3 linked regions of the Homo sapiens genome follow. The protein of the gene in region 1 binds, or shares a complex with, the protein of each later gene. Each region holds a gene or a part of one and is shown in the gene's direction. Other genes may lie near its edges. The genes, in order: TXNL4A, AAR2 and PRPF3.

Region 1 (3,651 bases):
TGTAGAAGGAGCTTGGTGCATGCTGCATGTAGGGCCTGCCTGCAGCATGGAGAATGAGAGGGCGGCCAGAGGTGGGCTCCAGACCCTGATCAGATTTGCCTCTCCTGAACCAGAGACTTCACGGGGAATACTTTCTACGGAATAGTAGGTGGAAGCCAAATGCATGATCTTGTGGAAGTGAACGTTAAAAAACAGTCTTTAGGTGGGGTATGCCTGCAGCCCAGCCACTCTGCAGGCCGGGGTGGGACTGGAGCTAGGGGTTTGAGTCCGGCCTTAGCAACATAGCTCGCATCTCTAAGAAAAATAATCAGGCCGGCACAGTGGCTCACGTTTGTAATCCCAGCACTTTGGGAGGCCGAGGTGGGAGGATCACTTGAGGCCATGAGTTTGAGACCAGCCTGGCCAACATGGGGACACCCCATCTTTACAAAAAACTAGAAATTTATCTGGGTGTGGTGGCTCGTGCCTGTGGTCCCAGTTACTTAGAGGGCTGAGGTGGGAGGATCATTTGGGCCAGGAGGTTGATTTTGCCACTATGCCCTAGCCTAGATGACAGTGAGACCCCATCTCAAAAAGAAACTTCAACAAACCAGGATAAATTTATGCCAGTACAACAAAGGGTTAATATCCTTATCTTGTAAAGTGCACATGAGTATTCATGAGGAAAAGAACTAGTCTCTTGAAAGATAAGTAAAGAATTATCTACTTCCCTAACCATAAACATGCAAAATGTCATCTTCATTTCATAGTTGAAGGGCTTTTAATACAATTTATGTCATTGCTCATAAGAGCACTGTGAAAAACTTACACATTGCTTTTATCAGGTAAATTAGTACAAATTAGATGGGGGTCTCATTTTGTTATCCATGTTGATCTCGGACTCCGGGCCTCAAGTGATCCTCCTGCCTCAGCCTCCCATAGAGTTGGGATTACAGGCATGAGCCACTGCGCCTGCCCTCCTTTGACCTTTTAATTTCCCCTTAGAATAACTGTCCTAAATAAATACAGAAAAATGCAGGAAAGAGCATGGTGGACAATGCATTGCATCTTTAAAAACACATTTAGCTGCTTCCTGTATTCTCCTGCATCATGGCATACACTCTCGATTTTATGCGTTCTTCAGTGATGTTAACAAGAGCTTGTCACAGTGGGAAAAATACGGCATTGTTTTCAAGGAATTCTTTTTTAAAGAGACTTCTATGAGAATGGATGCCCTTGTTTCTCGTTGCAGGAACAAGCACATCATGATTGACTTGGGGACTGGCAACAACAACAAGATTAACTGGGCCATGGAGGACAAGCAGGAGATGGTGGACATCATCGAGACGGTGTACCGCGGGGCCCGCAAAGGCCGCGGCCTGGTGGTGTCCCCCAAGGACTACTCCACCAAGTACCGCTACTGAGGCGCCCTCAGTCTGCGCGGATAAATGTCGTGGAGCCCTTTTTGTATGGAAACGTTTTAAGCTATTTAAAGCCTTTGGAAAATACAGGAAGCTCCAGGGCTGGAGCACCTCTGAGATGGAATTGATAACATGGTCTTAACTCACCGAAATAAACAAGCACGTGGTGAGAGGAGCAGGCCTACTTGTTTGTTCTCAGGAAACTTAATGAATAGATTACTGATTTTCCTAGTCAAAGTTAATTCTTACCCTTGGAGTAAAACGAAGGTGTTTATCCTGTGAGCCTGTGCGTTTTGCATACTGGGTTGGTTTGCTGGGGCTGCGGTGACAGCATATGCCGCGAGCTGGGCTTTAACAGAGATGTGTGCTCTCACAGCTTTGCAGGCGGGGGTCTGAGATCAGGGTGTCGCGGGTGGGGGGTCACTGCTGAGGCCGTGAGGGGAATCTGCTCAGGCCTGTCCCTGGCTTCTGGGGGCTGCTGGTGGTATTTTCAGTTCCTTGGTGTGTGGATACTTCGCCCCATCTCTGCCTTCACCTGTGTCCTCCCTGTGTGGGTGCTGGTGTCCAAAATTTCCCCTTTTCGTAGTGACACCAGCTGTGTTGGATTGGGGCCCACCCTGCTCCAGCATGGCCTAATCTTAACTAATTACATTTGCAAGGATCTTATGTCCACAAAAGTCACAGTCTGAGGTGCTGGGGGTTAGGACTTCAATATATAAATTTTGCGGTTACACAATTCAATCCATGACAGAATCCAAAGGTTTACTCTGGTTATAAAAACAGTACAATAAAATATTGTTTATAGCCTTCCCTGTAAGGAATAGGAGAGCTATTTTTTATTCTTCCCAAGATTGTATTTGATGTAAACATATTTTCTGTAGAAGCCATGGCCCTTCAGTTCATATAGTTAGAAAATTTCCTTATTGGCCAGGCACGGTGGCTCACACCTGTAATCCCAGCACTTTGGGAGGCCGAGGTGGGCAGATCACGAAGTCAGGTGTTCGAGACCAGCCTGGCCAACATGGTGAAATCCCGTCTCTACTAAAAATACAAAAATTAGCTGGGCATGGTGGCGCGTGCCTGTAATCCCAGCTACTTGGAAGGCTGAGGCAGGAGAATTGCTTGAACCCGGGAGGTGGAGGTTTCAGTGAGCCGAGATCACACCACTGCACTCCAGCCTGGGCAACAGAGCAAGACTCCGTCTCAAAAAAAGAAAAGAAAATGTCCTTATTACAGTCTCAGGTTTCTCTTGCCCTCTGTCATCCTAGCAGTGTGGATGGTTGGTTGGGATCTTCGTGTCCCGTCTCAGCACACTCGAGCTCTGAAGTGAAAGTGAGGAAGGGCAGGGATGGGGGCACTTGAGCACACCGTGGGCCCTCTGACCTCAGACCCAGGCTCTGCCCCACCAAGTGACCTTGGGCAGGGTACCTTCTCTGAGCTTTGTTTCCTCCTTGGTAAAGGCGGATAATAGTGTCTGCCCTGCACACAGATGTGGACGCAGAAGCACGTGGTGCCTGCCGGGCACAGGAGTGGTGCACAGGGCTCGCTGCTGTCGGGAGATTGATTGCTGTTGTGGAAACGGGAGGGTACTTACAGAATGAAGCACATTTTTTACATACAGTACAAATGAGTGTGTGCTTTTTAAATGGATTTAAAATTCAAATGCAAATCTGCAGTTTAATCTCCCAAGTGCTGATTTTTCTATGTATAAAGTAGGAGAGTGCAACAGCGTATCGGAATGAGGGGCTAGGGAGAACGTGTATGTGACCTCGAGTACCTGGCATGTAACAGACACTCAGTATTACACTCCTGCTATTTCTCCAGAGCAGGTGAAACAGACGGCCAGGAAGCACACGAAGAGACACTCAGCATCACTGCTTGTTAAGGAAGGTGCAAATCAAAACCACAGTGAGACGCCACTTCACACCTACAAGTTCGGCTAGATACAAAAAGATCGCAACAAGCGTTTGCAAGGATGTGGAGAAATTGGAGCCCTCACACACTGCTGGTGGCAAAGTGGTAACACAGGCAGGCAGGTCGTCAAAAAGTTAAACATGGGCCGGGTGCAGGTGTCTCAAGCCTGTAATCCCAGCACTTTGGAAGGCTGAGACAGGCAGATTGCTTGAGCCCAGGAGTTCACGACCAGCCTGGGCAACCTGGTGAGACCCTGTCTCTACAAAAAATACAGAACAATTAGCTGGGCATGGTGGTGCGTGCCTGTGGGCCCAGCTACTCGGCGGGCTGAGGCAGG
Region 2 (3,651 bases), on another chromosome or scaffold:
GGAAACTGGATATGTACTTGATTTAATCTTTCCAAATCTTTTGGGATAGTTTTTTGGCAGAATTGTAGTTTTAAATGATGTAGGCATATAGTTTAGAGTGACCTGTCCAGGCATTTTCCACCCTCACCCTCTGTTGTGAGAAAGAGATCTGAGAAGATATTAAGAATGGACGGTGGACAGAACACTGGCCTGCAGGCAGGGTATCCAGATTCTAATTTGGGTCCTGGTATGACCATGAGCATGTCACTTTTCTTTCACTGGTATCTTATAGCTGTGAAGTGAGTGTCCTTGCATGTTAAGCCAAAACACAAAAATCCTTTCCTTTAATCCTCGTTTTTCTCATCTGTAAACTCAATGCAGGGTTGTCATGAGGATTAAGGGAAATAATTATGTCAGGGGTCTAACTCAATATCTGGCACATACAGAATGCTTAGCAAATGAAGCATCTTTCCCCCACGTTCTGATTAACTCTGGTTTCTTTCTTTCTCAGCTGTTCATCAAAGAAAAAGGGTTCTTTTGGTCACCCACCACTGGCCCCATGGCTGCCGTGCAGATGGATCCTGAGCTAGCCAAGCGCCTCTTCTTTGAAGGGGCCACTGTGGTCATCCTGAACATGCCCAAGGGAACAGAGTTTGGGATTGACTATAACTCCTGGGAGGTCGGGCCCAAGTTCCGGGGCGTGAAGATGATCCCTCCAGGCATCCACTTCCTCCACTACAGCTCTGTGGACAAGGCTAATCCGAAGGAAGTAGGCCCTCGTATGGGTTTCTTCCTTAGCCTGCACCAGCGGGGGCTGACAGTGCTGCGCTGGAGCACACTCAGGGAAGAGGTAGACCTGTCCCCAGCCCCAGAGTCTGAGGTGGAGGCCATGAGGGCCAACCTCCAGGAGCTGGACCAGTTCCTGGGGCCTTACCCATATGCCACCCTGAAGAAGTGGATCTCACTCACCAACTTCATCAGCGAAGCCACAGTGGAGAAGCTACAGCCCGAGAATCGACAGATCTGTGCCTTTTCCGATGTGCTACCTGTGCTCTCCATGAAGCACACCAAGGACCGCGTGGGGCAGAATCTACCCCGCTGTGGCATTGAGTGCAAAAGCTACCAAGAGGGCCTGGCCCGGCTACCAGAGATGAAGCCCAGAGCCGGGACAGAGATCCGCTTCTCAGAGCTGCCCACGCAGATGTTCCCAGAGGGTGCCACGCCAGCTGAGATAACCAAGCACAGCATGGACCTGAGCTATGCCCTGGAGACTGTGCTCAACAAGCAGTTCCCCAGCAGCCCCCAGGATGTGCTTGGTGAGAAGGAACAAGGCTCTTTGGGAGTGGGCCAAGGGGAGGATATTAGCAGAGGTGTTTTGGAATAGGGAGTACATCTTGTGTTAGTCCAGCAGCAACTAAACCTGGCTAGGAGGCTGAAGATACAGGTGTGTCTTTACCCTTAGCCCTGGAGATTTCGATTTGAGAGATCTGGAGTGGGGCTTCCGCAGTTTCTATCTGTCTAATAAACAAACATCCTAGGTGAACCTGGTGCAGATAATCTTCTGTTTGGGAACCACTGATAGAGCCCAGTCCTACAGAAGGAAAAGATTTGGCCCACTGAGTGGCTGAACTGAGACGAGAACCCAGGACTCTTGGTTTCTGGGCCAGACCTGTGTTCGTTGTAGCCTCTCACCTGCCTGCTCAGTTTGCTCCTGACCCTCAAGATGTTGGTCTCTCAACTGGCTTAGAACAGGACAGTGATTTTTTTTTTAATCATTACAGTTTTTATTGTTACCTTCCCTTTTATTACAAAAATGATAGATAATAATCATAAAAGAAAAACAAAATTTACTTCAAATCTCACTACTTAGAAATAACCATTTAAACAGTTTGGTATATTTACGTTCCTTTTTTTCTGTGTATTTCTATGTATTTCATTTCAATGTCTTCTCTGTTTATTTCTATGTACTTCCTCTCAGTCTTAAAAATTCAGTATATGTGTCTGTATATATATGAGTTTTTATAAAAACAGGATTGAAGTATATTATTACTTTGTAATCTGCCTTAATATAAATGTTTTTTCATGTCACTAACAGTCACTTTTTTAGTGGCTGTTTCATGTTCCATAGTTATTGGACCAGTTCTCTGTTATGGACCATTGAGATGCTCCCTGTTTTCTCTATTGTATCATCAAGTGGCCGGGTGTGGTGACTCACACCTGTAATCCCAGCACTTTGGGAGGCTGAGGCCGGTGGGGATCACCTGAGGTTAGGAGTTCGAGACCAGCCTGGCCAACATGGTGAAACCCCATCTGTACTAAAAATACAAAATTAGCTGGGTGGTGTGCACCTGTAGTCCCAGCTACTCTGGAGGCTGAGGCAGGAGAATCACTTGAACCCAGGAGGCAGAGGTCGCAGTGAACCAAGACCTCGCCATTGCACTCCAGCCTGGGCAACAAGAGCCGTCTCAAAAATATATATACATATATCATCTAGTGAACATTCTCGTGTGTACTTACACATACATTTAGGGATAGAATTGCTGGGTCAGACTGTGCATGTTGCCAGGAGAAGGTTTTTGCATCCTTGCTGGCTGGTAGGAACCTGTTGCCCATCACCTTTGACAGCATTGGGCATGACAGTTTAACAAAGGCCTCTTCCAATTGGATAGCTGAAAAATGGCACCTTGTTTATATTTCTTTATTTCTTAAATACTAGTGACAGCAAATATGTGTCACATTTTGAACAGCTATTTTTATATATATTTATAAATTTTCCAGGTAATTTGCATATTTTCTTGTTGGAAGTTCAGTGAGAAATTTGAATGTAGGACTTCTTTTTTTTTTTTTTTTTTTTTTGAGACAGGGTTTCGCTGTGTCGCCCAGGGTGGAGTACAGTCAGTCACACAATCATGTCTTACTGCCACCTCAACCTCTCGGGCCCAAGTGATCCTTCTGCCTCGGCTTCCCAAAGTGCTGGGATTACTGTGCCTAGACAGGACTTTTTATATCATTGGCTCAGCTAATGATATAACCTATATTTTAACAGGTACATCTTTTGTTGTTGTTGTTGTTGTTGTTGTTGTTGTTGTTGTTGTTGTTGAGACGGAGTCTTGCTCTGTCGCCCAGGCTGGAGTGCAGTGGTGTGAGTTCGGCTCACTGCAAGCTCCGCCTCCCGGGTTCACGCCATTCTCCTGCCTCAGCCTCCTGAGTAGCTGGGACTACAGGCGCCCGCCACCACGCCCGGCTAATTTTGTTTTGTATTTTTAGTAGAGACAGGGTTTCACCATGTTGGCCAGGATGGTCTCGATCTCCTGACCTCATGATCCACCTGCCTCAGCCTCCCAAAGTGCTGGAATTACAGGCGTGAGCCACCGCACCCAGCCTTTAACAGGTACATCTTAATGCATTAGTATTTTCGTATAATAAGTAACTTTTAAAAGTCTGGCTTAAAAATGAATAGAAATCCTGTCTTTCTACCTCTTAAACATTTCAATTCTTCAAAATATATCTTGCGAAAAGGTCTGTTACAGGAATAACTTTGTTGGTTTTTTTTTTTTTTTTTTTTTGAGACAAGGTCTCACTCTGTGACATGGGCTGGAGTACAGTGGCATGATCACAACTCACTGCAGCCTCAACCTCCTGGGCTCAACTGAGCCTCCCACCTCAGCCTCC
Region 3 (3,651 bases), on another chromosome or scaffold:
GGGGTTGTGGAAAAGTTGAGAGAAATCATTATAAATGTGAGCAGTAGCATTTGCAAAGACCTTGAGATGGGAACATTTATAAGAACATGGGAATGAAATTTGTTTGACTGGATTAGGAGAATGTTGAAGTTGGGTGAGATGGAGAGTCTAGTAGACCCTGCTTCTGGCAGGTGGCTATTTGCAAGGTTGTGTCATATTCCCCTGGGAATAGCCAGAAAATGCTGGTAGGGGCTAGGATAATTCTTCCCTTCTCCCCACGGGGAGGGATACAGCTTTTCTTTCATCTTGGGTTCCCTTAGGAGGTGTTTGGTGATGACTCTGAGATCTCTAAAGAATCATCAGGAGTAAAGAAGCGACGAATACCCCGTTTTGAGGAGGTGGAAGAAGAGCCAGAGGTGATCCCTGGGCCTCCATCAGAGAGCCCTGGCATGCTGACTAAGCTCCAGGTTAGTGATTAGGGACTGGAAGCAAAGTGGTTTTGTGAGTTGAAGAAGCAAAAGGTGCATGGGTCTGTATTTATTGTGGAATTTTTTTTTTTTTTTTTTTTTTGAGGTGGAGTTTTGCTCTTGTCACCCAGGCTGGAATACAGTGGCGCGATCTCAGCTCACTGCAACCTCCGCCTCCCGGGTTCAAGCAAATCTCCTGTCTCAGCCTACTGAGTAGCTGGGATTAGAGGCACCCACCACCAAGCCTGGCTAATTTTTGTATTTTTAGTAGAGATGGGGTTTCACCATGTTGGCCAGGCTGGTCTTGAACTCCTGATGTCAGGTGATGCACTCACCTTGGCCTCTCAGAGTGCTAGAATTACAGGAGCGAGCCACTGCGCCCGGCTAATTTTTTGTATTTCTTTTAGTAGAGACAGGGTTTCACCATGTTGGGCAGGCTGGTCTTCAACTTCTGACCTCAGGTCATCTGCCCACCTTCGCCTCCCAGAGTGCTGGGATTATAGGCGTGAGCCAGCGTGCCTCGCCTTATTGTGATCTTGATTTGAATTAGTGTTTAGCATTTGGGGTAAACTTTTTTTTTTGAGATAGAGTTTCACTCTGTTGCCCATGCTGGAGTGTAGTGGCGTGATCTCAGCTCACGGCAACCTCCACCTCCCAGGTTCAAGCGATTCTCCTGCCTAAGCCTCCGGAGTAGCTGGGACTACATGCGAACACCACTACGCCTGGCTAATTTTTGTATTTTTAGTACAGATGGTATTTTGTCATGTTGGCCAGGCTGCTCTGGAACTCCTGGCCTCAAGTGATCTGCCACCTCAGCCGCCCAAATGGCTGGGATTACAGGTGTGAGCCACCATGCCAGGCCAGCATTTGGGAAAATTTTATTTCCTGCTTTATGTTTTAGCGTTCTTTGATTTGACCAGGAGTATTCTAGGTAAGGGTATTGAAATTGCCATTTACTGTGGCAAGCAAAGTGTGTTATGTACATTATTTGCCTAATTACCTATGTCGTTGAGTCATTGAGAAAATTAAATGAAATGATCAGAACTCATCTTAATGACAGAGGAGACTCTCCAAACATAATGCAAAGAAGATATAATCCACTGATAAATAATTTTAAGTTGACTTTATTTTTTTTTAACAGGAAGTATTTGTGTTTTTTCAATTGGCATTGTTAAATAATACCACATAAGTGTTTCTTTTACCATTTAATATTTGAGGGGGGTAATAGAACATATACAGAAATATGGGTGGGTGGATTTGCATATATGTGATATTTACAGAAGGAAAGAAATGGATTTTTTTTGTGTGTGTGTGTGAGATGTTCTCTCTGTCACTCAGGCTGGAGCGCAGTGGTGCGATCTCGGTTCACTGCAGCCTCTGCCTCCCAGGTTCAAGTGATTCTCCTGCCTCAGCCTCCTAAGTAGCTGGGATTATAGGCATGTGCCACCACGCACGGCTAATTTTTGTATTTTTAGTAGAGACAGGGTTTCACCATGTTGACCAGGCTGGTCTGGAACTCCTGACCTCAAGTGATCTGCCTACCTTGGCCTCCCAAATTGCTGGGATTATAGGCGTGAGCCACCGTACCTAGCCTGTTTTTGTTTTTCAGGCAAGGTCTCACTTTTTTGTCCAGGCTGGAGTTCAGTGGCGAGATCTTGGCTTACTGCAACCTCTGCCTCCCGGGCTTGAGTGATCCTCCCACCTTGGCTTCCCAAGTAGCTGGGACTACAGGTCACCATGCCTGGCTGATTTTTGTATTTTTTTTAAAGATTGAGTTCCACCATGTTGCCCAGGCTGGTCTTGAACTCCTGGGCTGAAATGATCCTCCTGCCTCAGCCTCCCAAAGTGCTGGACTTACAGGCGTGAGCTACCACGCCCAGCCAATTATTTTCTTTTTTGGGGGGTGGGGGATGGAGTCTTGCTCTGTCACTTAGGCTGGAGTACGGTGGCGCGTTCTCGGCTCACTGCAACCTCTGCCTCCCGGGTTCACGCCATTCTCCTGCCTCAGCCTCCTGAGTAGCTGGGACTACAGGTATGTACCACCATGCCCGACTAATTTTTTGTATTTTTAGTAGAGATGGGGTTTCACCATGTTAGCCAGGATGGTCTTGATCTCCTGACCTCGTGATCCACCCGCCTCGGCCTCCCAAAGTGCTGGGATTACAGGCATGAGCCACCGTGCCAGGCCCAATGATGTTTTTTATGGAGAATGGGGATGGACGTATTCACAACATATCCTTTTGTTATGTTTCTTTCTTTTTTTTTTTTGAGACGGAGTCTCACTCTGTCGCCCAGAGTGGAGTGTAATGGCGCTATCTCGGCTCACTGCAACCTCCGCCTCCCGGGTTCAAGCTATTCTTCTGCCTCAGTCCCTTGAGTAGCTGGGATTACAGGCACGCGCCACCACGCCTAGCTAATTTTTTTGTATGTTTAGTAGAGACGGGGTTTCACCATGTTGGTCAGGCTGGTCTCGAACTCCTGACCTCGTGATCCGCCCGGCTCGGCCTCCCAAAGTGCTGGGATTACAGACGTGAGCTGCCAGGCCCAGCCTGTAATTTTTCATTTTATTTTATTTTATTTTTTGAGACGGAGTCTCGCTCTTGCACTGTTGCCTAGGCTGGAGTGCAATGCCGTGATCTCAGCTCACTGCAACGTCCGCCTCCTGGGTTCCAGCAGTTCTCCTGCCTCAGCCTCCTGAGTAGCTGAGATTACAGAACGTGCATCACCATGTCCAGCTAATTTTTGTATTTTTAGTAGAGATGGGGTTTCACCCTGTTAGCCAGGATGGTCTCGATCTCCTGACCTCGTGATCCACCTGCCTCAGCCTCCCAAAGTATTGGGATTACAGGCGTGAGCCACCACGCCCAGCCCTGTAATTTTTAATTTTTTTATTTTCTTTCTTTCTTTACTTATTTAGAGATGGAGTCTCCCCCTGTTGTCCAGGCTGGAGTGCAGTGGCATGATCTTGGCTCACTGTAACCTCCACCTTCTGGATTCAAGCGCTTCTCCTGCCTCAGCCTCCTGAGTAGCTGGCATTACAGGCGCCCACCACCACACCCGGCTAATTTTTGTATTTTTACTAGAGACGGTGTTTCACCATGTTAGCCAGGCTGGTCTTCAGCTCCTGACCTCAAGTGATTCGCCCACCTCAGCCTCTCAAAGTGCTGGGATTACAGGCGTGAGCCACCATGCCTGACCCTTCCGT

Evidence for each region.
Region 2: TXNL4A (region 1) and AAR2 share a complex: the UniProt entries of both Homo sapiens proteins name them as parts of the U5 snRNP complex.
Region 3: TXNL4A (region 1) and PRPF3 share a complex: the UniProt entries of both Homo sapiens proteins name them as parts of the precatalytic spliceosome.

Annotation. Positions count from the first base shown.
Region 1 is NC_000018.10:79,971,437-79,975,087, reverse strand, and holds part of TXNL4A (thioredoxin-like protein 4A), read left to right. Parts: intron 1-1,231; coding exon 1,232-1,403; 3' UTR 1,404-3,651. UniProt on the Homo sapiens protein: Plays a role in pre-mRNA splicing as component of the U5 snRNP and U4/U6-U5 tri-snRNP complexes that are involved in spliceosome assembly, and as component of the precatalytic spliceosome (spliceosome B complex).
Region 2 is NC_000020.11:36,239,331-36,242,981, forward strand, and holds part of AAR2 (protein AAR2 homolog), read left to right. Parts: intron 1-490; 5' UTR 491-538; coding exon 539-1,295; intron 1,296-3,651. UniProt on the Homo sapiens protein: Component of the U5 snRNP complex that is required for spliceosome assembly and for pre-mRNA splicing.
Region 3 is NC_000001.11:150,328,021-150,331,671, forward strand, and holds part of PRPF3 (U4/U6 small nuclear ribonucleoprotein Prp3), read left to right. Parts: intron 1-299; coding exon 300-446; intron 447-2,431; exon of another isoform or gene 2,432-2,478; intron 2,479-3,651. UniProt on the Homo sapiens protein: Plays a role in pre-mRNA splicing as component of the U4/U6-U5 tri-snRNP complex that is involved in spliceosome assembly, and as component of the precatalytic spliceosome (spliceosome B complex).